Homo sapiens: one gene and its partners. The protein of the gene in region 1 purifies or fractionates together with the protein of each later gene. This does not show direct contact. Each region holds a gene or a part of one and is shown on either strand. Other genes may lie near its edges.

What was found.
Region 2: the proteins of CDC27 (region 1) and TTK purify together in Homo sapiens (affinity purification with western blotting; 3 studies listed by BioGRID). This does not show direct contact.
Region 3: the proteins of CDC27 (region 1) and FOXM1 purify together in Homo sapiens (affinity purification with western blotting; 2 studies listed by BioGRID, with this or other methods). This does not show direct contact.
Region 4: the proteins of CDC27 (region 1) and EIF3C fractionate together in Homo sapiens (co-fractionation; one large-scale study listed by BioGRID). This does not show direct contact.

Annotation. Positions count from the first base shown.
Region 1 is NC_000017.11:47,181,959-47,187,380, forward strand, and holds part of CDC27 (cell division cycle protein 27 homolog), read right to left. Parts: intron 1-5,422. UniProt on the Homo sapiens protein: Component of the anaphase promoting complex/cyclosome (APC/C), a cell cycle-regulated E3 ubiquitin ligase that controls progression through mitosis and the G1 phase of the cell cycle.
Region 2 is NC_000006.12:80,007,018-80,011,149, reverse strand, and holds part of TTK (dual specificity protein kinase TTK), read right to left. Parts: intron 3,342-4,132; coding exon 3,119-3,341; intron 2,765-3,118; coding exon 2,658-2,764; intron 337-2,657; coding exon 193-336; intron 1-192.
Region 3 is NC_000012.12:2,857,179-2,860,805, forward strand, and holds the end of FOXM1 (forkhead box protein M1), read right to left. Parts: intron 2,614-3,627; exon of another isoform or gene 2,486-2,613; coding exon 1,460-2,485; 3' UTR 502-1,459; downstream 1-501. UniProt on the Homo sapiens protein: Transcription factor regulating the expression of cell cycle genes essential for DNA replication and mitosis. Plays a role in the control of cell proliferation. Also plays a role in DNA break repair, participating in the DNA damage checkpoint response.
Region 4 is NC_000016.10:28,731,333-28,735,464, reverse strand, and holds part of EIF3C (eukaryotic translation initiation factor 3 subunit C), read right to left. Parts: intron 3,637-4,132; coding exon 3,273-3,636; intron 946-3,272; coding exon 786-945; intron 688-785; coding exon 622-687; intron 534-621; coding exon 446-533; coding exon of another isoform or gene 419-445; intron 368-418; coding exon of another isoform or gene 332-367; exon of another isoform or gene 301-331; intron 293-300; coding exon 130-292; intron 35-129; coding exon 1-34. UniProt on the Homo sapiens protein: Component of the eukaryotic translation initiation factor 3 (eIF-3) complex, which is required for several steps in the initiation of protein synthesis.

The DNA of each region.
Region 1 (5,422 bases):
AATAACATCTGCCCCATAAAGCTTTCCTGGCTGATGTCAAGCCATTTCTTTTTTAAGATACCTCTTCTAGTAGAGCACTCATAACATGGTTATTTGTTAACAGGACTGCCAACCCTACTAAACTACAGACTTTTAGCAGCAGTGGTTCTCAACCACTTTATGTGATATACATGACAGAGATATTAAAATGTATGTCATCCTCCCACAAAAACTTCCCTATCTATTACCTTTAATGCCACTCAATTCTCATCCACTCCAGGAAGCATATTGGAATGCAAATGAGTAAAGTTATCATAGGAATAACTTTTAATTTTTTGAATATATGTTTTCTCTTTTAGAATTACAAAACATATAACCTAAAGTATATATGAGATAGAAGGACATTTTAAGTAACAATAACCAAAGACATTTAGGCCCATGTACTCACCACCCAGCTTAAGAAATAAAATATCTCTGAAACTCCCTGTGTGTTCCTTGTTGATACCAAAACCTCTCCCTGCCCCAAAGAGGAAACCACCACACTGAATTTTCTTGACCTTTCTCTTGGTTTTCTTCACAATTTTATACATTTGTACATATCATCTCTAAGCAGTATAACATTTACTTTTTCCTGTTTTTGAACTTTAAATAAATACAATCATATTGTATACATTCTGCTACGATTTGCTTTTGAAATCCAATGTTTTGAAAATTCATTCTTGATGTGTGTAGCTAGAGTTCATTTGTTTTCATTGCTGAATAAATAATATTTCCATTGTATAAACATATCAAAATCCAAAATGTATTTTATCTATTTTACAGCATGTGGACATTTGGGTTATTTCTAGGGTGTTTTTTTGTTTTGTTTTGTTTTTCCAATTATAACAATGCTGCAACAGTCTTAGATTCATCTCCTGGGGTATATATTTAAGAATCTCTCCAGCCTATCACGGTGGTGTGAGCCTTTAGTCCCAGCGACTCAGAAGGCTGAGCTGGGAAGACTGCTTGAGTCCAGGAGTTCAAGGCTATGATCATACCTGTGAATAGCTGCTGGAGTGCAATAGGAGCAAGACTCCCATCAAAAAAACACAAAAAAGAATCTCTCCAAATTAGGATATATATTTAGGAATAAAATTACTGGGTTGTTGAATATGCATATGTTCATCTTTACTAGGTAATGTCAAATCATTTTTAGTAATAAACTACTTTTGAGATATCTCACACCTGATCATGATACAAGCGTTATTTTTTATTTTTAGCACATACACCAGCTTATAATTTGTTGAATGATTTAAAAAGGTTACAACGGAAACCAGTAAAATCTGGTTACTGATCACTAGCTAACATTGTACCAGTACATCTAAATTATATTAAGTGATTAATATGCCTTAGATACAGTAAAGGCTCAACAAATTTTGTTGAACAAACAAGTAAATGTTTAATAATTCTGCAATGAGTATATTAATTATAATTTTAAAAATAAAAGTAGTAAATGACTTAGCCCTTTCTATTTCCTCAAGAAAGAACAGTAATGAACTTAGTTTGGGATCTCCAGAGCCTCTTGTTTAACCTTTGTTTATATAGCTTAAATTTTATAAAGTCTCAAAGATGTCTAATTTTACCATTCCTATCTAGATACAAGGAAAAAGATGAGATTAGGCACCATTATTATACACTCTAATTGCACCAAGTACCTTTCCTTTGTAATACTTCCCACTGCTATAATTCTGTATTAATTTAGGAGAGTATTTGAGTGATGTTTTCCTTACTATATTACAAACTCCACAAGGTAGGGGCTACGTCTGTTTTTGCTCATTATTATACTCCCAGTATCCATTATGTGCTTTTAAAGCAGGTGCTTATATGTTGAATGAATAAGCAAATGATCTTTAATTTCTAGCAGTCTTCCACTGTTGACACTCTTGTACGTTAGTCTTAGCATTAAGTTTCTTTGTATTCCTAGATGTATATCTAATAATAAAGAATCTCTGGGAGTCTCTATTGAAAGAAACTCTGTGATAAATAGAAGAATTATTTTATTATGCAAATAATTACCACCAAATTACTCCTTTATGAAATCTGGGATTTCCTAAGAACCTACATGTTTAATTTTGCTGTAAGTGAAAGAAAATGGTGAGTAGAATGAAGATACCAAAGATTTGATGTTTGGAGACGTGCTCAAATTTGTGTGCCAGCACTTCCAGTAGTGGGACTTTGTGGGAAATACTCAACTTTTCTCAGCCTCAATCTCTTCATCTGATAAATGGAGTTTATTTATTGGAGTTGTTTTGTGGATTAAATGAAATGATCCATTTATAATGCTCCTAGTATACTATCATACATTAAGCACTTGGAAAACCTTTTCCTTGCCAATCTCTTAATATAAAGAAATTCAATAAATATGTAGTTTCTGTTGCATAACATCTCCCCAGCATACCTGCTACAACTGCTTATTTTGCAATATATAAGCCACAAAAGACTCAAATGATTTACCAGCTATTTTACTACTATGGACCACTAGGAAAATTTCACACACATATACTAAAGTCAAAAAGTCCTAGAGCTTTGAAATTTTTTCTGTCCTTTTAAAATTAAAGAAATAAGAGGCAAGGGCGGGGGGAAAAAAGAAGGAAAAAAGGTATCATATTCAAGAGTTGTATCCATTTCTGACTTAAAATCAAGCTTTGCTCAGAACATCATTCCCTTATCACCAGTTCTTAAGAGCATCAGAAAAAACTTGCCATCTCGAGAATCTCACATACTGCTTCCATCCCGCTTTGCTCAATCAATTCTAAGTTCCTGACTAACAGTGTCTCTTGTGCCGGGATTGGGGGGAAGAACAGATTATTCTCTAAGGCACTACAGATTAGTAGCTGATGATGAACAGGGCTAAAATCAGCACCTCTGCCCAACTGATGGTGTGGGCCTTCCCTTAAAAGAACACCCAGTGCATTACCGCTAGAGTTCTACAAATTAAAGCCAGATGAACGAAATGCTGCTAAAAGAAAGTTATGAAGCCAAAAAGAACAACGCTCCTCTCCCTCTCCCCTAAAAAATGTTTAAGAGAAATCTGACTGATTAATGGGTTAGTCCCCAGGTGCACTAATTTAAAAGATAAATAAACCAACAGCTTAAAGTTGCAAAATTCCTTACCAGCTAGCTATTCTTAAATATAAAATATTATTTAAAATATAAACAAACCTCTATAAGTTGTACTTAGACTTAAATGTAATCACTATAAATTTTTCTCTTTTTTTTTGAGACAGAGTCTCACTCTGTCACCCAGGCTGGAGTGCAGTGGCGCGATCTCGGCTCACTGCAAGCTCCACCTCCTGGGTTCACGCCATTCTCCTGCCTCAGCCTCCTGAGTAGCTGGGACTACAGGTGCCTGCCACCATGCCCGGCTAATTTTTTTTGTATTTTTAGTAGAGAAGGAATGGTTTCACCCTGTTGGCCAGGATGGTCTCGATCTCCTGACCTCGTGATCCGCCTGCCTCAGCCCCCCAAAGTGCTGGGATTACAGGCGTGAGGCACCGCGCCCGGCCTGTAATCATTATAAATTTTTTGTTAGAGAAAGCTTATTACAAAAAATTTGTTTACTTGTTTTTGTTAAATTTTTTATACATTTTGTGTTCTTGTTTTTGTCAAAAAAGCTGTCTTTATTTTATTTTATTTGTTGGTCTTGAACTCCTTGGCTCAAGTGATCTGTCTGCCTCAGCCTCTGAAAGTGCTGGGATTACAAGCGTGAGCCACTGTGCCCAGTCAGCTGCCCTTTTTTAAAAACCATAAAATAAATGGATAATAAAGGCTTCAGACAATGTAAGAAGATACAAAGAAAAAAATCACTGTTGAAATTTCATATTATACATTATAATTGAATTTCTAGGATACTGATTTAGTTTAGATGCACGTCAGTGGTTCTTACTCTGGGCAATTTTGCCTTCTTACTCCCAATTAATGCCCCAACATTTAGCAATGTCTAGAGGGTATTTTTGGTTGTCACAAATGGAGGGGTCATCCAGTGGTTAGAAGCCAGGGATGCTACAAAACATTCTACAATGCACAGCTTCCAACAAAGTATTAGCTTGCCCCAAATGTCAATAGTGCTCAGATTAAGCAGCCCTGGTCTACATGATCATGCAGTTGGATTATTCTACTAGTCTGTATGTCTAACTCTTGTCTCTTCCTCCCTTTCCAACAGCACCAGATAAATATTCCCAAAGTGGTGCTTTTATTACATAATTCCTCTGCTCAAAAACTCTTCTGCTCATATAATGGTTATTCATTACCAATGCACATTAAATCTAAATTTCTCATTGAGTAGCCAAAATATGTTACTCTTTGAATCCATGTTAGATGCTGTCCCTGAACATTTTATCCCCAGCCAAGAGTACTCCTTCACCATCTAATGATCTCTAAAACAGTATCATGTATATAGTACCCAATTGCTATATTGCTTATTAAATTAATTTTCGAAAGGCTTATTTACAACTTCATCCAACACTTCTGTGAAGTCTTACCCCTAGGAATAATTGCTAAATCTATATAAAATCTCTTTGCTTCTTTTTTAAAAACCAATTTCACCAGGTGACTTTTATAAATATTCAAAAAGCTCTCACTGAAGTCACTTAGGCTAGTGTGTCTTTCCAAATAGTTACCATTAAAAATAAAAGAACTGACAGAAATTCTGCCTCATATGTGAGACTTTTGTAAGGACTCAAATATAAAGTAATACTCTTCTGAGAGGTAGTAATTTGAGACGGAGTTTTAATTTAGGCATATATGGTATATCGGACTGGCCATTCTACATTAAAACTTTAAAGAAAAAAAAATGCAGAAAACAGTTCTTCATATTTTCTGTGAACTTTTTCCTATGCCTAGTAATACCATCAACTCTGAGGCATTCCAAGAAAGAACAATTTTCCAACTTACTCTCATTGCTTTCCAAATACACGCAATCTGTCATCATAGTTTTTTTTTTAATAAAGACAGTATCTTATATATCTGTCCTATTTTTATTCTCTTCCTAATTCTTTCCCATTTGCAGCACTATCCCTGATCATTGATCTTTATCATTGTAGCCAAAGTTGCTTGTTCTTCTCACTGTTCCAAATCCATTCTTGAATGGCTTCTTATACTATACAACCAAAATTTTCACCTAGTCATATCCTAAAACTTTCTACCACTATCTCAAAAATCTAATGGACAATGCTGCTATGAAAAAGAAGCAAATTTGACATTTAAGCCTTAAAAATATCAAAGTGTATTACTGCTCAGAGTACTTTAAGGACAAACAGGAAACCTGATGGGTACTATCTAGAAACAGGCTACATATTCCTTTTCTTTTCCATGCTTTTATTTTTTATTTATTTATTTATTTTGAGATGGAGTCTCACTCTGTCGCCCAGGCTGGAGTGCAGCGGGACCATGTCGGCTCACTGCA
Region 2 (4,132 bases), on another chromosome or scaffold:
TTTAGTTAGCAAAAAAGACAAATTTGCATGGGGTTGTAGAGACTTTTTTACTTCTCAGTCTTACCTCCTTTACAATTTAATCTTAGATTTTAACCATTCTACATAAATAATATTTTTCTATAAATTATTATCCCGAATCTTTATTTGAAGTACTACCTACCACAGAAAGTATTAGTATACCTTAATAGTTACCTGATAAATTCTTCTTTTCCTCCTCTGAAAGCAGCTGCTTTTTTTGGAGGTTTAAATTCCGCAGGGCAATTTCCAGCATTTCTAGTGGTACTGCTCCACGTTCTACAGCTTTTTGAAGAAGTTGTTTACTTTTTTTGACATTACCTAACAAAGCAAAAGATAATTGTCATTTTTAGGCAGTAAAATGCCCACCACCCAGACCACCCAGATACGTATTCATCAGGACCTAGAAAAAAAAATCAAAAAGACTTAAGCAAAAATATTTATTCCAAGGCTCATGTATTTTATTTCATAGGCAAGTAAGCAATCTCTCACTTTTTATGCAGATAACCAACTCTCTTCTGATAACAATGCATACCAAATAGTTTCCTTGCAATATGTAGCTGACGTAATTTTGCATTAGTTTATCACCACTGTCCACTTTCAGAAGTAACAGAAGTGTAACAAAGCAGTTACCAACAGGGGACAGCAAAGGCCAATCACAACAGTTAGAAACAGGAGGGCATTCTAGATGTTACAAAAGTGCCAAGAGCATCAGTCTCTTACAACATGCTATAATAAGTATCATTCATAATGACATTTAGTTAAGGGAAGGATGACATCTTTTGTTAAAGAGCATCTTCCATCAAAAGGATTTTCGGGGAAAAACATAATAAATACAGATTAATCTTTAGCTGTCACACTCAGCTATACCAGCCTGAAAAAGAATGCAGAATAACTGAGGAACTATCATAATTACCTTTCTGAGTATGGACAGATTACCAAAAAAATTGGTAAACTTACCCCTAGCATTTGACATATAAATATTAAATGTATACATCACATATCTTACAGAATATTATCAACATTTATGGGAGCCATTGAGCTATGCTATGCACTTGGTACTTAGCGTATAAAAATGCTTAAGAGATGATCTCTAGCTTCTGGTAGTTTATAAATTTTTAAAAATATCTTTGATAGTGCTTACATCTACATTTACTAAGTAGTGGTAGAATTTCATGTATTGTGTATTTTAGCACAAGAAAAGAGAGAAAGGCTTAAGAAGCTTAATTAATCAGATAGCTTAGTATTGAGATCAGAGATTTCTTTAAGAATCTGGTAAAAACTGAAATGTCCTCCATCCCTATAAAAATACTCACACACCAGACTCTGCATAGGACTTCAGGGATGCTGCATTATTTCCTGACAGCCAAGCCATCAACTGTGCTCAAAATAATCATAATTTGACCACACTGCATTACTGTGCAATGCATTTGACCACATTGCATCACTGTGCATTACTACCACATTGCAGATAAAGTGGTATAGATAAAGTTCGTCTTTTTTACAGATAACTCAATTTAAGAGTTTCAATATTTACATGTTCTAAACATGTAAAATTTATGGTTGTTATTGAGAGGCCACAATACCTCAAGAAATTTTCAAGCAGAATGGAGAGAAAGAAGCCTTGCCAAATTTTCTCTAACAAGCAAGGAGGAATCCATTTTTCTAGAGAAGAAAGGGATAATAGTTCTAAAAAGTAACCTGATAGAGCAAAGGACATATTGGAGAAGACAATTACTAGGACTCAGAAATCATCTGAATGGGTAACAATTCAGGGTTCTCAAATTATTTCTGAGTCATATAATTATTTTCTCCAGGCTCAATCCTGGGGAATACTCTCCAGTGACCAATCCCTGCTATGGAAACCATCATGGGGATTCTTCCAATAGTGTTAATATGTTTATCACTGGCAGTAAATTGGATCACAGTTGTAGCAGAAACAAGGCAGTGGGAGAATGGAAACACCTGGCCAGAGGGCAGACTGAGGGTGTATCCAAAGGCCCTGGAAAATGAGAAAAGACTAAGGAATGGCCAGGTTAAAAATGTCTTAGGAAGAGATTGTCTTGGTCCTACCCAAAAAAATCCAGACTATGAAGAACCAAGTGAGCAAGAAATAGTTTCTACAGCAGTTTACTTTTTTATTTTAAAGAACTACCAATTAACGCTACACACACACACACACACACACACACACACACACACACAGATATATAGTTTACTTGACCACCAAGTTACATAGCTACACTTTAATGTACATTTTGGTGCTATGAAACCATAGCATAAGAAAAGTTTATGTAAGCTCTAGATATTTAAAGCTCTAGCTTAAATATCTGATATCCTTCTTCCTACAAATACTCAGTGAAGCAGCTACTTTCCTTTAGATGTTTCCTGAATCTAACTAGTAGCACATACACAATGTTCATGCTCATTTCCCTGGATTACTCTTTATACATGGAAAAGCTAGTATAACAGATATTCTCTGCATTTACATTTAGGTGGCATTTTCTCCCCATATTCTCATCTGATCAACTTTAATGTCTTTTGCCTCAAATTTCCACTTCATATATATGATTTAATATTAGGAAGTAAGTTGTAATAAGTTATCCTTTACTTAAAATTTGAATTTGACATTTTCAGATTACCTTGTGACAGTTCAAATTGTGCAAAAGATATATGAACAAAAGCAAATTTCTTGCAGTTTGCTCTGGCCATTTGAAAGTAGTCACGTGCATCATCTGGCTCTTGAATACTGTAATAAAAGATTTGAGTCAAAATTTAAGAAAAAGAACATAGCTACTTAAATTTGATAATGCTTCATTCAATTTTCCAAAAAACATGGGATATTGCTTTTTTCTGTGGGTAAAATTAAATACTAATAAGTTATTTTAAAAAAATCTTTTTAGGCAGTTTAAAATAAGTAAACTGTTGTGGAAACGTGCATAGAAAAGAGTTTACATTAGTCTCTTGTTAACTATAAGCAAAAGTATTTGGTAAAAAAATTAATATTTTCTCACAATACTGCCATGTTTTTTATTTTCTCTCTTTGCAGTGTAGTTACATATTATGTAACATAGTTGAACATAGTTAAAATGCTAATACTTACGCTTTTAATTCAGCAAATCTCACTTGAATTCTAGCAAAACTCTCATTTTGGCCATATTTATCTGGGGGAAGCGCTTCAATTGCTTGACTGTAACGACCAATCAATTTATTTAAAAGAGCATCACTTAGCGGAACACTGTTTTTCTCTAGTTTGAGCAACAAACTCAACCAGTCCTCTGGGTTGTTTGCCATCATCATAATTTGGTTAACAGTTCCCGAGTTATCTAAATAAGGGGAACAAAATATATCACAAGAAAAGACATAAAACAAATGCCAAATTGCATTTTTCCTTCAAAATATAGTCAAACATTTGTACTGTCAGTATCAATGTACATAAAGTCCTTATAATACTTTTTAAAATTGTAAAAGTTCATATAAATACAAGTAACTTATTTATCGTGTATTTATCTTTTATGAAGGTATACTTTATCCAAAAGCTATATATTTTGAAGGAAAGAAAACATTTGGAAATAAGTGAGTTTTTTTGTAAGTAGCCTTTAAAAATTGTATGTAGTTTAAGAAAATTTTATGCTGTTGCAGGATAACTATAATTTTAGCATCCTACCTATCCATAGAAAACTAAATCTCTCCCACTGCCACTTGTACTAATTAACTTAGAAAATTCTCCCATCAATGATTTATTCATTAAACCTACTGCTCCAGTCCTAACATAACCTTCTTTACAACCTTAACCATTCAACATTATCTCTGTATACCTCATACTTACTTGTAAAACCAAACCAGCTTTACAAAAAATAAACAAATGAGACAATCATTTTCTTCTCTCCAAGTAACCTAAATTTCTGCTAGAGGCCCTGATAATTTCTTGGTCCAACAAACTCATAGTTACCGTGGTCTAGACCTTTGGAATTTATAGGACCTCTTGTGACTGTCAGGTTTCTCTCTGTGGAACCCCAACCAACAGAAACAGCAAGAATAACCTTCAGACAAAATGTTCACACTGAAATGTACTTTTTACTTTCTTCAGTGTTAGTTTTTTAAAAAGATAACTTGA
Region 3 (3,627 bases), on another chromosome or scaffold:
GCCCCTGGCTACTTTTCAGGTTAGACAGGCAGGGGATAGCACTTTCTTCAAGTTCTGACTGCAAAAAACTGTAACAGGAGCTGCTGCCGGGCAGAAGAAAAGCAGGGCAGGCTGGCTCCCAGGCCTCAGGGTGGGGATGGCAGTGGGAATGAAGCACCTGTAACTGGGCCCTTCCTGCCCTAATGTTCAGGGGGCCCTACCCCTCGTGAGCTTGTCTTATTAAGAACCCTCAAAAGGCCTAAGTTAACCAGCAGGTCCAAAGGTCCCAAGGAACAAGGTCAGAGACGCCAGGGAAAAGAGGTGAGCTGTGCAGGACTAGCACTGGGAAAACTGGCAATTTGTGTTGTCAAGTGTGTGCCTGTGCAAGTGCTCCAACTGCTGCTTTGGGTGAACTTCAGGCCTTGCCTCTTCCCTATCACCATCGTCTCCATCAACACCCTCTTTCTTTTCCAGCCTCTCCTGGTGCCTTAGGAATCAGACGCCAATAAACCACAGAGCCCAGCATGTCCACCTTCGCTTTTATTGAGTAGTTAGTGTTCTCAAGCTGGCTCACACCCATGCGGTCAGCTGGGGCCTAGGGTGGCTCTTTGCAAAGCTGAGGGGCAAGCTAAGGAAGCCAGGCAGGTCAGGGGCCCTTTCGGCCTTCTCAAGCCTCCACCTGAGTTCTCGTCAATGCCAGTCTCCCTGGTATGATTGGGGACATTATCAGAGAAACATCTAATAGCGCACATCTGGGCACCCACACTCTGCTTCAGTTGCATCCATCCTCCCACCCCAAATTCAACTCCTGACCCAATACAAAAGACTTTTTTAACCAGGATTTCTTCTTGCAGGAAAGCTGACTTGGAAACACGGGGAGGTGGCAGGGAGGGGCAAAAAGGACTCTGGCAAGCAGATCCACTTGTCTGGGTCCCTGCAGTGAAGAACCCAAGATCCAGGTACCTCAGCCTGGAAGAAACCGTGCACTGCAGGTCTTCCCTTCTATCAAAACTAAAAGCAAGGAACAGAAGTCAATTGAAACCCCAGGTCATCCTACCCACCTTCTGGCAGTCTCTGGATAATGATCTAAGGAAATAAGCTTACATTTATAATTAGAGGATAATTTGGAGAATTTATACTATTTACACGGACCACCCTGCAAAGATCAGGGAAGGTAAGAGACTGCTGGGCAGAGAATGGAAACAGGCTGGGGGGTTCCTAATCTCTTTTCACCATTGCCTTTGTTGTTCCCACCCTTCAGCTCCTGGCAGGGACAGCAGAGGAATCAGATACTCTTGGGGAACACAAGGTCCCAGCAGTGGCTAGGGTGTGACTGCTACTTTTGCATAATCAGGCAGCAGGGAGCTATGAGGAGCAGAACAGTCCCTGCCTGCTGTCCTCACTCAGAGGCTTGGGGTGCACTGAGCCTTGGAGTGCCCGGGATGGTGGACAGCTTGAGCACAGGGGCAAGGGCAGGGCTCTACTGTAGCTCAGGAATAAACTGGGACCAGTTGATGTTGTCAGGGCCCAGTGGGTCCTCGTCCAGGCCAGGAAAGCTGATGTCCAGCAGGATCTTGCTGAGGCTGTCATTCATTGTGTCCAGGACCAGGCCTTCTGTCAGAGAACGATTGGCTGCAAGGCCAGAAACCTGTGGCTCCGGGGAGCCTGGCTTGGGGACGTCTATATCTGAGGGAGAAGAGTTGCCAAAGGGGACGGAGATGAGGTCTAAGGGTTCTGAACTGAGGAGCCTTTGCGGTGATTCAAGGGGGGGAGCACTTTGCAAGGGAGTGGTGCTGAGATCCATCAGCCCCAGGGGGTCAGGCAAGGGGTCAGAGGCACCCTGGGAGGTTTGTACTGGGCTGAAATCCAGTCCCCCTACTTTGGCTGGGGGCGTGAGCCTCCAGGATTCAGGGGTTCTGGGGAGGACAGATTTGCTCGGGGTGGAGGAGATGGGCAGCGTTTCCTTAATGGGTGTCTTAAAAGGTCCTCCCACTTCCTGGGAGTAGCTGAGCTGGGAGGCAGGGTCAGAGGAGTCTGCTGGGAACGGGAGCTCTGCGGCCCAGCGGGAAGTACTGGGCCCCTCTGAGAAGAGCAGCTCCGGCTCATCCACACAGGGAGGCAGTAGATGCTGTTTTCTCCGAGACCGGCTCCTCTCCCTCCTCTCCCTGTGTTGAATCACAAGCATTTCCGAGACACACCGGGTTGGGGACCTAAGCCCACTGTAGGACTTCTTGGGTCTTGGGGTGGGAGATTGGGACGAATCCTCCCAGGAGTGAGATGATTCCTCTTTGAAAGATGGGGCCGGGGAGGGCCACTCTTCCAAGGGAGGGCTCTCCACTTTGATGGGTCTCGCTAAGTGTGGCATTTCCTCCCCAGGCTGGATTTCTTCCTCCTTGATAGTCTGAACTGGAAGCAAAGGAGAAAACCCTTCTCCAAACAGGAGTTTCTCCTCTTTCCCTGGTCCTGCAGAAGAAAGAGGAGCTATCCCCTCCTCAGCTAGCAGCACCTGAAAGGGAAACAGAGATAAGGTGAACCAACGGTCACCAGACAGGACGCACAAAAATATCACATACGGGTTCTGATCCTCTTTGTGTCGTTTTGAAGTCTTAAAATCTATTAAATATGAGAATACGATGTATGTTGAAGTTGGTAGTTCAATTCTGGGGGTAAAAGATGCGGGTATGTAGTATGTAGTGGCATAATTATAATAGCATTCATCCGAGAGGAAATAAAATTGCATGCTTGTCTTACACTGTATACAAAGATTTAATGCATGAAAATAAGAACCTTAGGCTGCTCTGATGGTAGCGGGTAGTGACATTATTGTCACTAAAGTTGGTACACAACCCCCAACTGCTAAATTTGACTGGCTTTAAAAAAAAAATGAAAACCTTAAAATCATACAAATCCTGAAAGAGAATCTAGGAGACTACATATACAATCTGAGGGTGCGGGTGACCTTCTTAACCAAGACTGGAAACCCAGAAACTGTAAAAGAGAAGAGAGACATTTGACTACATAAAACTTTAAAATTTTACTGTGGCAAGAGATACCATAAACAAAGTTAAGAAACAACAAACAATGCCTGTAATCCCAGCACTGCAAGACACTGAGGCCAGTTTGAGACCAGCCTGAGCAACATAGTGAGATCCCATCTCTACAAAAAAATTTTTTTTAATTAGCTGGATGTGGTGGCATGCACCTGTAGTTCCAGCTACAGGTGGGAGGCTGAGGTGGGAAGATCACTTGAGCCTGGGAGGTCAAGGATGTAGTGAGCCTTCATTACACCACTGCACTCCAGACTAGGCAACATAGCAAGATCCTGTCTCAGAAAAGAAAAGAAAGGAAAGTAAAGAGATAAACAATAGAAGTAGAAAAATATCTTCAGCATAAAAGAAAGAAGATTATTTTAACAACAAAGAGCTCTCACAGGGGGCTGGGTGCGGTGGCTCACGCCTGTAATCCAGCACTTTGGGAGGCCAAGGCAGGCAGATCACCTGAGGTCAGAAGTTCGAGACCAGCCTGACCAACATGGTGAAACCTTGTCTCTACTAAAAATACAAAATTAGCCGGGCGTGGTGGCATGCACCTGTAATCCCAGCTACTCGGGAGGCTGAGGCACGAGAATTGCTTGAACCCGGGAGGCAG
Region 4 (4,132 bases), on another chromosome or scaffold:
TAGCCCTCGTTTTTGCGGTAGCCGTCCTTCTGGTCTGTAGGAGAGAGATGGGAAGGAAGGGCAGGGAATGCCAGGTGAGAGGCGGTGAGGGCACCAGGAGTGGGCAAGGAGAGGAGCCGAAGTACTCACCTCGGAAGTAGCCCCCGTAGGTGCCCTGCTTGTGGTCAAACACCCGTTCGTTGTTCTCCACCAGGCTGCCCAGCTTCTCGGCCAGCTGCAGAGCCAGGTTCTGCTGGGCAGTGGGCTCAGTGCGGTGCATCACCACTGTCTGTGTTGGCTGGTCCAGGGAGGCCTGACAGGCGCCAAGGCAGAGGAGGGGACACGACACAGATCAGGCCCCTCTGCTCCAATCCCTCCATGGCTCCACCTGCCCGCTTCCCACCCCGGCCCCTACGCTCCAATCCCTCCATGGCTCCACCTGCCCGCTTCCCACCCCGGCCCCTACCATCAGCTCCTCATTAATGATCATTTTGCTGATGATGGAGTGCACAGTGGGCAGATCCAGCTCAAACATGTCTGACAGCGTCTCCATGCTGGGAAGAAAGAAGGCAGAGGGCAGGGGCAGTCAGGACACTTGCCCACAAGGCTGGGGCCCTTCTGTGTCCCCAGGGCCCCGCCTACCTGATGGAGTCATAGACACTGCTGTAGGTGAAGAGGTAGGTCCTCAGTGACTCTTCCTGGATCTTCCTGTGGGAAGAGGGGACAGAAGACACAACAGGGCCTCAGGGAAGGGGACCAACCAGTCTCTTCTTCCCCGACCCATCACGGCCTCTCTGTCTGCTCACCTAACCAGCATGGTGCGGACTTTGTCAGCCTCGGGGAAAAGGTCCCACACTTTCCCATTCATCTTCTCATTGATGATAAAACTGTGACAGGTCTTCCAGTCACCCATCTTCATGGCCTTGGAGGCAGCGACCACATGTTCCCGCATGGACTCAGGGGGACCTGAAAGGGTGGGAATGAGGCAGGGCCTAGGGAACTTGGGACAAGTTCCATTAGCACTCTTTAAGGAGGAACAGAGGCTGGAGGAGCAAACCATACTAGAGACTCTCCCCGCCTCTCCACCAAACAGCCACGTAGTCGCCCAAGCCACTCCATCTGCACAAATGTTTGAACTCAATCAGTCCATAGATGCACTTCAGGGGACTGCCGAAACCCTCAAAAATGTTGACAAATTGTGCACATGTCCTCATGTACATTCTTCCTAGGAAAAAGGCCCATGGCTTTCATCAGATTCTCGTAAGCTTCCTTGACCTAAAAACACCTCTTCCAGCCAGGCGTGGTGGCTCACACCTGTAATAATCCCAGCACTTTGGGAGGCCAAGGCAGACGGATCATCTGAGGTCAGGAGTTGGAGACCAGCCTGGCCAGCATGGCAAAACCTCGTCTCTACTAAAAATACAAAAATTAGCCAGGCATAGTGGCACACGCCTGTAATCCCAACTACTCGGGAGGCTGAGGCAGGAAAATTGCTTGAACCCGGGAGGCAGAATTTGCAGTGAGCTGAGATCTTGCCACTGCACTCCAGCCTGGGCTACAGAGCGAGACTCTGTCTCAAAAAACAAAACAAAACAAAACAAAACCACCTCTTCCAGCTCAACTGGAATGGAATTTACCAACCCTTCCTCACTCACATCACCTTCATGAATGGTGCCATGCCCATGCATCAATTACACTGTTGCCAGCTTATTATTCTTCCAAGCAGCTCACTTCTTTTCCTTAAAAAACTTAGCCCCGGTCAAAATTATCTCTAAAATCACAAGTTTATATATTAATTATGAACTCAGGCCCCCAAATACAATCCTAAGACAAGCCAGGAAGGTAAGACATGGTACGCCATAGTAACTGGAATTCAGGGTAGACAAAGTGCAAAAGTTCTACGGCTAGAAATGGGTGGCAGACAGTGAAACACAAACACGCAGACTCCACAGCAAGAACGGCAAGCTCAATGCGAACGGGGATCAGGTCCAAATGGAACCATAGGAGCAGGGCTAAGTGTTAAGAGTGTAAGGAGAGGCACACAGCCCTCCTGGATGAACCTCCATTTTAACCATATTAACACTTGCAAAAGGCAAGGTTGGTCTGGGCGCAGTGGCTCACACCTGTAATCCCAGCACTTTGGGAAGCCGAGGTGGGCGGGCCACCTGAGGTCAGGAATTCGAGACCAGCCTGGCCAACATGAAGAAACCCCATCTCTACTAAAAATACAAAAAATTAGCTGGACATGGTGGCGGGGGCCTGTAGTCTCAGCTACTCGAGAGGCTGAGGCAGCAGAATCACTTGAACCCAGGAGGTGGAGGTTGCAGTGAGCTGAGACTGCGCCACTGCACTCCAGTCTGGGCAACAGTGAGGCTCCGTCTCAAAAAAAAAAAAAAAAGAAAGAAAGAAAGAAAAAGGCAAGTTTAGGGGCTCAAAGAATATTTCTCTATAGGCCGAACAACAGTGCAGGGCTGATGGAAACTGGCTTTTGGAACCACTGTAGGGAGAAATTGAGAGGCAGGGACTGTGGAGAAGCAGACAGCCCTTTCCCATCGCTGCTACTTCAGCTCCAGCCAAGGCTAGCTCTGCAGGAAGGCAGGGCCAGGAGCGACAGACTGCCAATATTCTAAGACATGAAAATTCCGATTTTCATGGGAAATTTCCCCACAAAGTAAATCTCACTACATAAGCCAAACAAAATGTGCCTAAGGGAACTTGCCCTTTAGCCCAAACATATACATGACCAGGAGAGGACAAATCTGTAGGGGGATGTGGCTGTGGACACTGGGCTCAGCTCACTCGTCAAGCCCTCCTGTGGGCCAATGTCACAGGAAGGGCGCAGCTCAATTCCTTTCCAGTGAGTCACCACTCACTGCAACCCTGCAGGATCTGTCTTTCAAAAGGGGCCAAAGGAATCAACGTTAGCCTCTTGAACGATAAGGCTCTATGATAGTTGGTTTGGCTGGAATATAATGTACATGAAGGGAAGAAAAGGGAAAGAAAGATCAGAGGTACACATGAGCTGCATTAAACTCGGGCAAGTCACTTAACTACTCTGTGCCTCAGTTTCTCCACTGGGAAAAAGGGTATTACTAGTACCTACCGGCATAGGGTTATTACTAATGCAGATTAAATAATTATTTGTAAAACACTTAGCACAGTGCCAGGCAGAGGAGGTGTCATTAAATCAGATGGAGTCGAGTGGTGGGAGAGTTACTCCCTTCACTTCTCTTAATCCTTATGTGTAATCAGGGAGCAAGGCAGCCTGCTGAACCCTGGAGCTCCACACTCACCCAGCAGGGGCTGTCGCTCGCCCACGCGCAGCTGGTGGTGGAACTGCTTGCTGATCATGCGTCGGCGGGCATCGCTCTCATGGGCGGCCATGTAGGGGATCTCCAGGAGCATGGCAGACACCAGGTAGACACACTCCAGCAGCTCCAGGTTGATGTGCAGGTGGAAGGGGACCTGACGGCGCCGCTCCACCTTCTCCTGCTCCTGGTTGCGCTCCTGCAGGCTGCGCAGCAGCAGGCCCTGGCCCAGAAGCTCCTTGGCTCGGCCACTCGACTGGATGTCCAGCAGGGCGTTGTGTGCGTCCTTGGTCAGGCCTTGGCGGAAGGCACAGATGCCCAGCTGCACCATGGTGCGGTTGTAAAGGATCTGGGGGCAAAGGGTCATAATGCACTCAGAGATGACAGCTGCAAGACAAGTCTTCATTTATTCCATAACTAAGCCGGGTGCAGTGGCTCACGCCTGTAATCCCAGCACTTTGGGAGGCTAAGGTGGGAGGATCACTTGAGCCCAGGGGTTCAAGATGGGCCTGAGCAACATGGAGATACCCCATCGCTAAAGATAAAAAACAAAAACAAAACTAAACAAATCTACTTCAAGTGCCTACTATGTGCTGAGCACTAGGCTGGGGAGGGAGAGCAAAACAGACAAGTCCCCAGTCTGCATGGAGCTTATGTCTAGGGGTGGGGTGTGGTGGGCAAGAGAGCTGCACTACAAGGATGGTGACTCATGCTGAGAAGAAAAATAAAGCAGAGGACGGAGCCAGGAAGGCAGTCTGCGCAGTGGTGGAGGCTCAAATGTTCATATAACTACAGAAGGCCTCATTGGGAAAGAATGTTTGAATAAAGACCTAAAGAGAGAGCAA